Linked DNA regions of Homo sapiens: region 2 is linked to region 1. The links come from fine-mapping of genetic effects on plasma protein levels. A gene starts in region 1. The other region holds a variant in brackets. All regions are shown on one strand. Distances are from middle to middle.

Region 1 (5,339 bases):
GCAGAGAATGGGATGCAGAGGTAGAGACAAGAAGGGTAGAGGTGGCAGGTATCCCTGATAAGGGGGAGACCATGGGTTCATCCTGGGATTCCACCCTCAGAGTCAGATGCCCTTGGGATCACCGACTAATGCCTCTCCACCTCACTCTGGACTGCCCAAGGAATCTGTCCTGTGCTACCCACAGTGCAGATTGCAACAGGGCTCCTCCTCCCCACCCAGGGCCCTGATTAAGGGGATGGATTGCACACTGTAGTGAGACATCCATCCTGACCCCACCTCATCAGCCAGGGAGCTCCCTGAAGACAGGCCATCGAGAGAGGCACACAACAGGCTGTGGTCTAAAATAAACTTTTAATTGCACATTTGTGTCTTGGGTTATCTGTGGGGTGAGAAACCTCCTCACTTCCAATCCCAGCTATCTGGGTACAATCTGGTGTTGTGGTCTGGCTGTCGGCGAGGGGTAGAGGTGGGTGCAGGACTGGCCCCCGAGTCTGCACCGACCTCTTCAGGGCAGGGAGCTCAGACCTGGGAAGGGAGGGGCAGCACAGGCTGGTGGTCAGCCTGCAGGTGCAAGAGGAGGGTTGGCCTCTCCCCCTCCCCGCCTGAGTCGGGGTCCACTCACTCACCATGGTAGTACTTGCACTGCTTCAGGGCCTCGCTGAAGCCCTCACACAGGGACAGGTCACTCTGAGTGGTGGAACAGTCCAGGAACTGCCTGATCTCGTAGGCGCAGGGCCCCATCTGCAGGGGCTGGGGGGCAGCGGGGGTGGGGGCCTGGGGGTACAGTGCAAGAGGCTGCAGGATCAGCTTGGAGTTGGCACCTGGAGGTGCGTTTCAAACCTGGGGCCACCTGCCCCTCCCCACATCCCCAGCCTGGGTGTCCCAAGGGTCCTAGGCAGGCTGAGTGATCCAGCAGCAGAGGCGGCTACAGACAGCATGTTTCTGCTGCCTTTTTTTTTTTTTTTTTTTGAGACAGAGTCTCACTCTGTCACCTAGAGTGGAGTGCAGCGGCGCAGTCTCGGCTCACTGCAACCTCCGCCTCCCGGGTTCAAGTGGTTGTCCTGCCTTGGCCTCCCAAGTAGCTGGGGCTACAGGCGCCCGCCACCATGCCCAACAAATTTTTTGTATTTTTAGTAGAGAGGGGGTTTCACTATGTTGGCCAGGCTGGTATCGAACTCCTGAACTCATGATCCACCCGCCTTGGCCTCCCAAAGTGCTGGGATTACAGGCATGAGCCACTGCGCCTGGCCTCTGCTGCCTTCTAATGGGCACTTTGGGCGGGTGCAGGAGAGGGAGGAGAAGGCTCTAGGAAAGCCCAGTACTCTGCCTGTACTCTCAGAGTATGAGCCCCACCCCCACAAGTTCTAGCACCTTCCTGGCTCAGCTACACTAATCCTCATGACCCCTGACCTAGCCACAAAGCCACATTTGGCTTACGGCGGTGGGGTTCCTAGCAGGGGAAAGGTCATCAGGGAAGTGGCTCCCCTTCGCCCTTGCGCCCAGCGGCCACAGTGCCCAGACCTGGGTGTGGGGAGAACAGGGGCTCAGGAAATCCAACATCCCTCCCCTCTGCTAGGGTGAGGTGACCTTGGGCGAGTCTCTGAGCCCTCAGGGCCTGGGTTTCCCATCTTTAAAGGGCTGGTTGGTGTCTCTCCCTGGGAGCTTAGGGACCCTGGCCTCAAGGGAGAGGCCGGGAAGCCTGCCTCTAAGTGACAGTGAACTCAAGACCAGTGGACTAGGACCCTTCCCGGGCAGAGTCCTGGGCTGAAGCAATGGTGAATACACGCGGACACTCCTCACTGGACACTTGGGCAGCTCCCTGTGTGGCCTCGAGATAATCCTGCCTCAGTTTCTCTTGGACTCGCTGCTCACCTGCTGGACAGCAGGCTGGGAGGGCTCCGAGCTCCCCCCGCTGAAGGCTCCGGTCAGGGCGCTGCCCATGACGTGTCCCACAGCCGAGCCCACGGCTACCCCTGCGGCCGTGGTCGCCATCTGAGCCATGAGCCCCGGCTGGCCCGAAGGGGCGGGGGCTGGGGCGGCTGCCGAGGGCGGTGGGTGCGCGGGCGGGTGGGCAGAGGGCGCGGCTGGGCGGCTGCGGGGGTGGGAGGAAGCAGGGTTAATCCTGGCCAGACCCCAGGCTGGAGGGCTGCAGCTCCTGGAAACGACCCCCGGAGAGATGGACGACCCACGTCTCCACACGTGGGTGCTGCACCCCCACCCCTCCCCCCGCCAAGATGGCGCAGCAGCAGCCAAGGTCACTCTGCGGACGCCCTTAGGGGAGTGCCCACACTTCCCTAACCCCCTCCCCACAGGGCCCTTGTCCCCCTCACACCTGGCTGGCCGGGAGGCCGCGCTGCGGCTTCCCCGAGGCATGGTGGCGGCGGTGGGACCCGGGCGACCTTAGAGACGGCGGCAGCGGTGCTGTCGCGGGGACAAATGCCGCAGCGCTTGTCACAGCCGGCGCAAAAAAGGCGGGGCCCCGGGCGGGGCCTCAGGAACACGCCCCCAGCGGGAGGCGGCACTGCCCCCAACCCTATCCCCCTTCTCCCGTCCTCCGGACATCTCCCTTCCAGCAGCTCCGGGTCTCGGCTGGAAATGGGACCCTGCTCCCTCCCTGCGCCTGGCAGGCTGTGCGGGTTCTGGGGACAGGGGCCAGTGTCGCAAAGCGCCGAGGGCTTAAGGAGGGCGACAGTGCCTTCTGTTAGGACCACCGCAGAGGGCAGGGAGCGGAGTTGGGGGTTGTTGCGAGCCCTGGAGGGGAGAGGAGACGGGGAGGCGACGGGATGGGGCCAGCTGGGAAGGGGACGCGAGGCTCCAGGCTGGACTCCGCTCTCTGCCCCCTCCCGGACTCGGCTGTCTGTCCCCTCCCTCCAGACAGGGTCTGCTGACCACCGCGTGGCCTGGGAGTCTCCGGTGGCCTAGGGAAGTGAAGCGCGGCCCTGGGGAAGGCCTGGAGCAACCCATCCCCAGAACTCCCACGAGGGGGCGTCCCAACCCGTCTTCGACTGTTGGCCAAAATGCGCTGCCAATGCTGGCAGCCTTACGCAGTGCCCGCGGGGGATATGAGGCCCCCCGCGCGGCCCTGAACCCCACCGGATTCCCCGGGCCGGCCCGACCGCCCCCACCTAGTCCCTGGCCCCGCGAGTGCAACCCCCGACACTAACGGCCTTTACGCGACATCCGAGCAGCGTGTCTATCCCAAAGGCCTAGGAGCATTTGCCCGGCTCGGTCAAATCTAGCGCAAGTTTGAAGCCTGCGGCCTCGCAATTTTAGCAGCTTCGTTCCAGGCCAGGTGAGCTGGAGCGCGGATTTAGAATGCTTTCCTGCTCTTCGAGAACTTGAGGTTTTAATTTTACTTTTTACTTTTTTTTTTTTGACACGGAGCCTTGCTCTGTCGCCCAGGTTGGAGTGCAGTGGCGATCTCGGCTCACTGCAACCTCCACCTCCCGGATTCAAGCAATTCTCCTGCCTCAGCCTCCTGAGTAGCTGGGACTACAGGCTCGTGCCACCACACCTGGCTAATTTTTGTATTTTTAGTAGAGACGGGGTTTCACCATGTTGGCCAAACTGGTCTCCAACTCCTGAGCTCATGATCCTCCTACCTCAGCCTCCCAAAGTGCTGGGATTACAAGCATGAGCCATCGCGCCCGGCTGAGCTTGAGGTTTTTATGGTCTTTTCTGGGTGACTTTGCAGTGGTCATATTATTACTCCTAGGTGGGGGAAGGTAGGGACTGTCCCTCATCACTGCTGTGCCTGCAGAGGACTCCTGACACCGGGATTGTCGGCAGGGTGCAACCAAGAGCAAAAGCACCCAGAAGTGGGGGTGTGGGTCACCAAGTAAGAGAGGAGGCCCCTCCATAAGGAAGGAGCAGGTCAAGGGGCAAGGGGAGTGGTGGCTGGGGCGTTTGGCCCTGCCTGGCATGCTCAATTCTGTGTGTGCACAGCTGTCCCCAGCCATGCATGCTCTCCATGGAAGTCAGGTGCAGCCCTGTGTTCTCTCACACTGCAGTCCTTTCAGCCAGCCTGTGAACAGGGCCCTTCCCCGCCCTGTCTTCAGTTTCTCCTCTCTGAAGGGGGGTGACCACCCACCTTGAGGGTGGCCTCCCAGTGAGGTGAGCACACCAAGGGTGGGCCATTCTTTCCTGGCAGACTCACCAGGCCTGGTCCAGCCGCTACTCCCTTGTTCATGCAGTCCATGCCACCTGGTTCCTGTTTGCCACACCAAACAAACTGAACACTTCTCATGGTGGTCCCCGGGCCTAAACTGCAGAGAGTTGTTACTTCAGCTCCCATGGCTGATGGACTGCAGGTTCCACAAAGCATGGCCTTGCACCTCGGAGGCACCCAAGACCACTTAAGTGGGTTACACAAATGAAAATGAGGCTGAAAGGATGACACTGAAGCAGGCATTGAAATGCCAACTTTTTTTTTTTTTTTTTTTTGAAACGGAGTCTTGCTCTGTCGCTCAGGCTGGAGTGCAGTGGTATGATCTCCACTCACTGCAACTTCTGCCTCCTGGGTTCAAGCGATTCTCTTGCCTCAGCCTCCCGAGTATCTGGGACCACAGGCACATGCCACCATGCCCCGCTAATTGTTTGTTTTTTGTTGTTTTTTTGTTTTTGTTTTTGTTTTTTTAAACAGAGTCTCACTCTGTTGCCAGGCTGGAGTGCGGTGGTGTGATCTCAGCTTACTGCAACCTCCACCTCCCGGGTTCAAGTGATTCTCCTGCTTCAGCTTCCCAAGTAGCTGGGACTACAGGCACGTGCCACCATGCCCAGCTAATTTTTTTTTGTATTTTTAGTAGAGACAGGGTTTCACCATGTTGGCCAGGATGGTCTCTTGTGATCCGCCTGCCTCAGCCTCCCAAAGTGCTGGGATTACAGGCATGAGCCACCACGCCTGGCCTGAAATGCCTACTTTTTAAAAATGAGTCACTTTAGCGGGGAATAGTGGCTCATGTCTATATCCCAGAACTTTGTGAGTCCCAGGCAGGCAGATTGCTTGAGTCCAGGAGTTCGAGACCAGCCTGGCCAACATGGTGAAACCCTGTCTCTACAAAAAATACAAAAATTAGCAGGGCATAGTGATGCACACCGGTAGTCCCAGCTACTTGGGAGGCTGAGGCAGGAGGATCGTTTGAGCCTGGAAGGCGGAGGTTGCAGTGAGCCAAGATCACACCATTGAGCAAGACCCTGTCTCAAAATAATAAAAGTAAATAAAAGTGAGTGACTTTAAAGAAAAGATTGCCTTTCAGGCGCGGTGGCTCACGCCTGTAATCCCAGCACTTTGGGAGGCCGAGGCGGGTGGATCACCTGAGGTCAGGAGTTCAAGACCAGCC
Region 2 (5,363 bases), 180 kb after region 1:
ACTGCTTGGAAGCAAGGCTTATCCCTAAGCCTTATTTTCGGGAAGGTGGATTTGAGAGCTACTATCCCACATCCTTGCTTGGTGCCCTGTGAATAAATCTTTTCTCTTTTGCAAAACTCGTGTCATGGTGATTAATTTACTGTGCAATGCCAGGCACTGTTGGAAACCTCTGGATAGGCCTCACAGGGCCTCAGCCATCTCGGGGAGGCGTTAGCTAGAGTGTAACAAATATGACCCCAGCAACTGGGGAGGGACAGCTCATTCCTTCATGAGGTGTGGGGCTGGCAGCCCCGCAGGCAGTCAGCCACCCTTCCTCTCTGGCCTCCGTCCTGGGCACTGGGCCCAGGCACTGGGCAAGGAGGCTGCTGCACCTCCTTTCTCCTCTTCCTTTTTTTTTATTTTTTGAGACGGAGTATGGCTCTGCCGCCCAGGCTGGAGTGCAGTGGCGTGAGCTCGGCTCACTGCAAGCTCCGCCTCCCGGGTTCACGCCATTCTCCTGCCCCAGCCTCCCGAGTAGCTGGGACTACAGGCGCCCGCCACCCCGCCCGGCTAATTTTTTGTATTTTTAGTAGAGACGGGTTTCACCGTTTTAGCCAGTATGGTCTCGATCTCCTGACCTCGTGATCCGCCCCCCTCGGTATCCCAAAGTGCTGGGATTACAGGCGTGAGCCACCGCGCCCAGCCTCTCCTCTTCCCTTTTAGTGGGAAATATACCTGCAGCCTAGATTCCCAGAAAGGGGTGGTGAGAGAGCAGACACGCCACTGATTGACCCGAAGTTCTAGGAGCCAAGGGATGAGTGAAGAGGGCGTGGCCGGACTCGGGGCTCCTGGTGAGGTGCACCGCTGCAGGCTCGGTGACCCAGCAGTTCCTGCCCAACCCTCACCTACCCCCAGCCGTTCCTGTCCGCCGCCCCCAACCAGCCATTCCTGCCCGCAGTTCCTGTTCCCGGGCCTGTCCCCGGGTTTGTCCCCAGGGCCCGTCCCCTGGGTTTAGGTCTGCCCTCCCACGCCCCACCCCATTGCCCCCGCCATGGGTCTGCTGTCCCAGCCCTGCCGTTCAGTCTACATCTTCGCCAAGAATGGCATCCCCTTCGAGCTTCGCACAGTGGAGCTGACCAAAGCTGGGCTGGGCAGGCAGGCCCAGGGGATATTGGCCGCGGATCCCTGCCTGTCCCCGCTGCTTTGCAGTTGGGCCAAGAATGCAGACTAACACGAAGAATCAGACTCTCCGGTGTGGAAACTATTACATAATTATCTATGTTATTATTTTTACTTTTTGGAGACAGCATCTAACTCTGTCACTCAGGCTGGAGTGCAGTGGCACAATCATGGCTCACTGCAGCCTCGACCTTCCAGGCTTAAGCGATCCTCCCGCCTCAGCCCCTCAAGTAGCTGGGACTACAGGTGCCCACCGACATGCCTGGCCAATTTATTATTATTATTATTATTGAGAGGAGGTCTTGCTGTGTTTCCGAGGCTGGCCTAGAACTCCTGGGCTCAAGTGATCCTCTTGCCTTGGCCTCCCAAAGTGTTGGGATTACAAGCATGAGCCGCCATGCCCCACTGGTTGTCTATTTTAATAGAGGCTTGATCTTTGCTTGTGAATACAAAACATTCTTCAAAATACAGGTTTAGAGAGGGCACAGCAGGCACAGAACGAGGGTAGGGAAATGGAGTGGGGCAAGAATATCTTCACCCCATGTGCTTGGAAAAAACAATGAAACTGCCTCGTTGTTTCCTAAGTAAAATAGTCCCTGTCTACCCCTGCCTGTGTCTCTTCCACTTTTGTATTATTTGTTTGTTTATTTATTTATTTATTTATTTATTTATTTATTTATTTATTTATTACAGTGTCTCAATCTGCAGCCCAGGCTAGAGGGCAGTGGCATGATCCCGGCTCACTGCAGCCTTGACCTCTCAGGATCAAGTGATCCTCCCAACTTACTCCTCCTAAGTAGAATAGTTGGGACTACAGGCACGTCCCCGTGCCCAGCTACTTTTTTCTTTGGTGTGTGTAGACGCATGATTTTGCCATGTAGACCAGGCTGACCTTGAACTCCTGAGCTCAAGTGATCCTCCTGCCTCCTCCTTCTAAAGTGTTGAGATCACAGACATGCACCACCATGTCTGGCCCTGGGTCTCTTCCACTTTTATGTATTTCTTGGCATTCTTCTGCCTTTTCCTTTTCCTGCATCTGACTTGCTCTATCCCATGGGGCTTCTCACCCAGCTGAAGGGGCTACTCCTAGAGGCTAGAGGCTGGAGGGCCCTGTGGCAGGGCAGTGGGGGAGGCCAGCACCCTCACCCTGAGCTCCAGCGTTTGCTGGTCTGGCTGGCATACAGAGATGCAGCTGGAGCACAATTCAGTGGAGGAGGCAGGGCTATAACTAAGCAGTAGGGCAGAGAGCAGAGCCAGAGCCCCCTGGGCAGGCCAGAGGGAGGACCCTGCTCAGCTGA[C/G]TCTTCCCAACTGCTGCCCTTGGTACAACCAGCTTGAGTCACCTGCTACAGAACAGGGGCTGGACACAGAAGCAGTCTGTGGAGGGAGAATGGGCAGGGGTGTGTATGTCCATTCAGTAGAAGGGCAAAGAGGCCCACATGTAGGCCTATGATCAGACTGGAGCCTGGCTTGACTGAGGTCCTCTGATCCAAACACCAGGCACCTAATGCGGCCTCTAGCACTGGCCTAGAGTGCTAAAGTGAGTCAGACCTGGGAACCCCCACTGGGGAGGGAGCCTTGAGAGTTTGGCATAAGAAAGCAAGAAGAGCTGAGCCACCGGAGGCTAAGTAGCTGAATGGGGCAGGGATTCCCAGCAAGAATGAGGTTGGTCTGAGGGTTGGGAACATGTTTGGCTGGGACTCTGGGGTATTGACAGGTCACCCAGCCTGGCCAGTAGGGCCTAAGTCCCCAGCTGGGATAGGAAGCTGAATCAGAGGGGGCAAGCCTAGAGCCCAGGGAGGAGGCTGGAGGGGTCTGACCTATGGATGGAACTGGCTGGGGGTGGGGTGTGAATTACAGCTCCAGGGAATTGTCCTTGAGCCATGCTTCAAGGAGCTGGACACAGGAAAGATGGCCCTCTGATGGGGTCAAGGTCTGTGACCCAGTGACTAGCAGAGAGGCTTCCTCTTCCCTGATGCCTCCCAGATAGGGGCCTCAGAAAGCTGCTGCTGGGATTTTGGGGTGGGGGTGGGCAGAGACCTCAGAGAACTCTGGGTTATCCCCACTCACCTCTCTGATCTTTCCTGCAGGCCAGCAGCACAGCGATGCCTTTGCCCAGGTGAACCCCCTGAGGAAGGTGCCGGGCCTTGAAGGATGGGGACTTCACCTTGGCTGAGAGGTAACCGGTCCGTGGGCTGCTGCCGGGCCTTGTGGGGCCAGTCGGCTGTCTGTTCACTGTTGATGGCTTGGATCATGGACTGTGGGCCCTGCACCAGCCCCAGGGTGAAGAATGGGTGGAGGCAGGCAGAGGTGCCCAGTGTTGACAAGGGTTATAGAAGTCCCCTCCTGCATTGTACAAGTGAGGAAACTGAGGCTGGAGGAGGGGAGGGACTTGCACAAGGCCACAGGGCCCAGTCTGCTTCCGGGCCTCCTCACCGCCAGCCTTCCCCTCCGAAAAAAGGAGAGTGCTAAGTTTCGAGGAGCGGCTGTACCAGGCATCTTAGTGCTACCATTTTGCCCACAAATCCTGTGGGGCAAGTGCTGTTTCCCTGGAGAGTCGAGGGACCACTCAGCGAGCTTCAGTGGCTATTTGCTAAACATCCACCAGGGCCAGACCCCATTTAAGCCCTGGGGCTTGAGCAGTGAACGTGTCTGCGTCCTTCTCCTCATGGATCTCACATTCCATTAATAGAAGGGGGAGCTGACAGTAACCCATGTAAACATGGAACATATCGGATGTTGATGGATGCCATGGAAAAAATAAACAGGGTAAGAGTGGGGGTGTGTGTCATTATGAGTAGGATGCTGAGGGAAGACTCCCTGGAGGAGGTGGCATCTGAGCAGGGAGCTGTAGGAATGTGCAAGGCATGAGGAGAAGGGTGTTCTCACTGGAGGGAAGAGTGAGGGCGAAGGCTCCAGGTGGGACAATGCATGGGGTTCAGACTGGAGAGCAACGGGCCAGGGTGGGTGCAGTGAGCAGGAAGAGCAGGAGGTCACGACAGAGGGGAGCATGGGACACTGGGAAGGCTTTGGCTCTTACCGCAGGTGGATTGAGTTGTTGGAGAGTTTTGAGCAGAGGAGAACTGTGATCTGACTTACGTCGTAAAGGATCCCCCTGGCAGGGGTGAGAAAGCCACTGCAGTCATCTGGCATGCAGCGCTGGAGCCCCAGACCAAGGTGGTGGTGGTGCAGGGTTGCGGGGGATTGTGGTCAGTTCTGACTTTTATTGAAATCTAACTGCAGGGTTTGCTGAAGGGTTGGAGGTGGGTGGGAAAAATGAAAGCCAAAACCAGCCTCCAGGTTGGTGGCCGCATGGTGGCGTCCTTTACCGAGGCCACATAGTGCCTCCTTGGTGGAGCTGGATTCACATTCAGAGCCTGGGATCACTGGATGGTCCAACACCCATAAAGGCATGATGAGCTCTGAGGGTCAGACTGCACAACCCTTCACCATAGGTGAACGGGAGTTGGGACAGGGTGGGAAGCAATGCTGCCATGTCACCTGGAAGGCTCTGTCCCTGCTGGCCTTGCTCCTGGCCCTGTCCACACTTTGGATATGTTGGGGAGATATCCAACATGCTCTCGTTCTTCAGACTCACACTGGGTGCCCCTTCCTCCTGGAAGCCTTCCCTGAGCCCCTGCTGAAGTTCATGACATTTTGTTTCTTCCTTGCTGCCCTTAGTTGAGATGACAGTCTGGCCCCGTGTAGGGCTGTGTGACCCTGGGTAGTTACCTAACCTCTCTGAGCCTCACATCCCTCCTCTGCATCATGGGGATAGTGAAAATGCCCCAGAAAACGGTTGAAGAGTGTTCAGGGCATGTCTTCTGCCCCTGCCATGTCCCCCCAGTGTGGCTAGCTTGCTCTATATGAGCTGCATGTACAAAGCACCTGACCACTGGTACCTCCAGGACCTGCAGGCCCGCGCCCATGGGGATCAGTACCTGTCATGGCAGCACATGGCCCTGCAGAGTAGCTGCTGCTGGGCCATGTGGCAGACGGTGAGCCATGGAGGGCAGGGACACCTCCCGGGATGCCCAAGGGATGCTGCTTTCACTTTACAAAATTCTGTTTAGACCTGAGACCAAATCCTGGAATGCCAGAGACTGCCTAATTCACCCAACTTGTTTCATAGGAGGGAAACCAAGGACCAGAGCCAAGGAAGGATTCCCCTAATGTGCCTTAATTCCACAGCTACCACCTGCACACTT

Which allele goes with the higher level. Alleles are on the strand shown, and positions count from the first base shown. The strength of an association depends on the size of the effect and on how common the allele is.
As copies of G replace C in region 2, the plasma level of the protein whose gene starts at base 2,471 in region 1 goes up (strong association).

What was found. PIP is the chance, under the fine-mapping model, that this variant and not a neighbour inherited with it causes the effect. Protein levels are from antibody-based Olink assays in UK Biobank. Linkage for the fine-mapping came from a reference panel and not from the study's own genotypes, which makes the PIPs less certain.
Region 2: its variant is fine-mapped to the plasma level of the CHCHD10 protein (UK Biobank, PIP above 0.99).

What each region holds. Positions count from the first base shown.
Region 1 is chr22:23,765,502-23,770,840 of GRCh38, forward strand. It overlaps CHCHD10 (coiled-coil-helix-coiled-coil-helix domain containing 10), which reads right to left and starts at 2,471. Exons shown (of 4, transcript NM_213720.3): 1 at 2,333-2,471; 2 at 1,873-2,092; 3 at 627-774; 4 at 333-525. The coding sequence starts at 2,373. The coding sequence ends at 506. It overlaps C22orf15 (chromosome 22 open reading frame 15), which reads left to right. Exons shown (of 6, transcript NM_182520.3): 6 at 220-362. The coding sequence ends at 231. LOC107985577 (a long non-coding RNA gene) reads left to right here and starts at 2,725. Exons shown (of 3, transcript XR_007068022.1): 1 at 2,725-3,292. RefSeq lists enhancers at 9-808, 809-1,608.
Region 2 is chr22:23,948,888-23,954,250 of GRCh38, forward strand. No RefSeq gene overlaps it. Among named protein-coding and RNA genes, the nearest start is that of GSTT2B, 9.6 kb to the right of the region's middle. RefSeq lists enhancers at 2,771-3,462, 3,463-4,154. The variant C/G (reference allele first, on the strand shown) is at 2,457.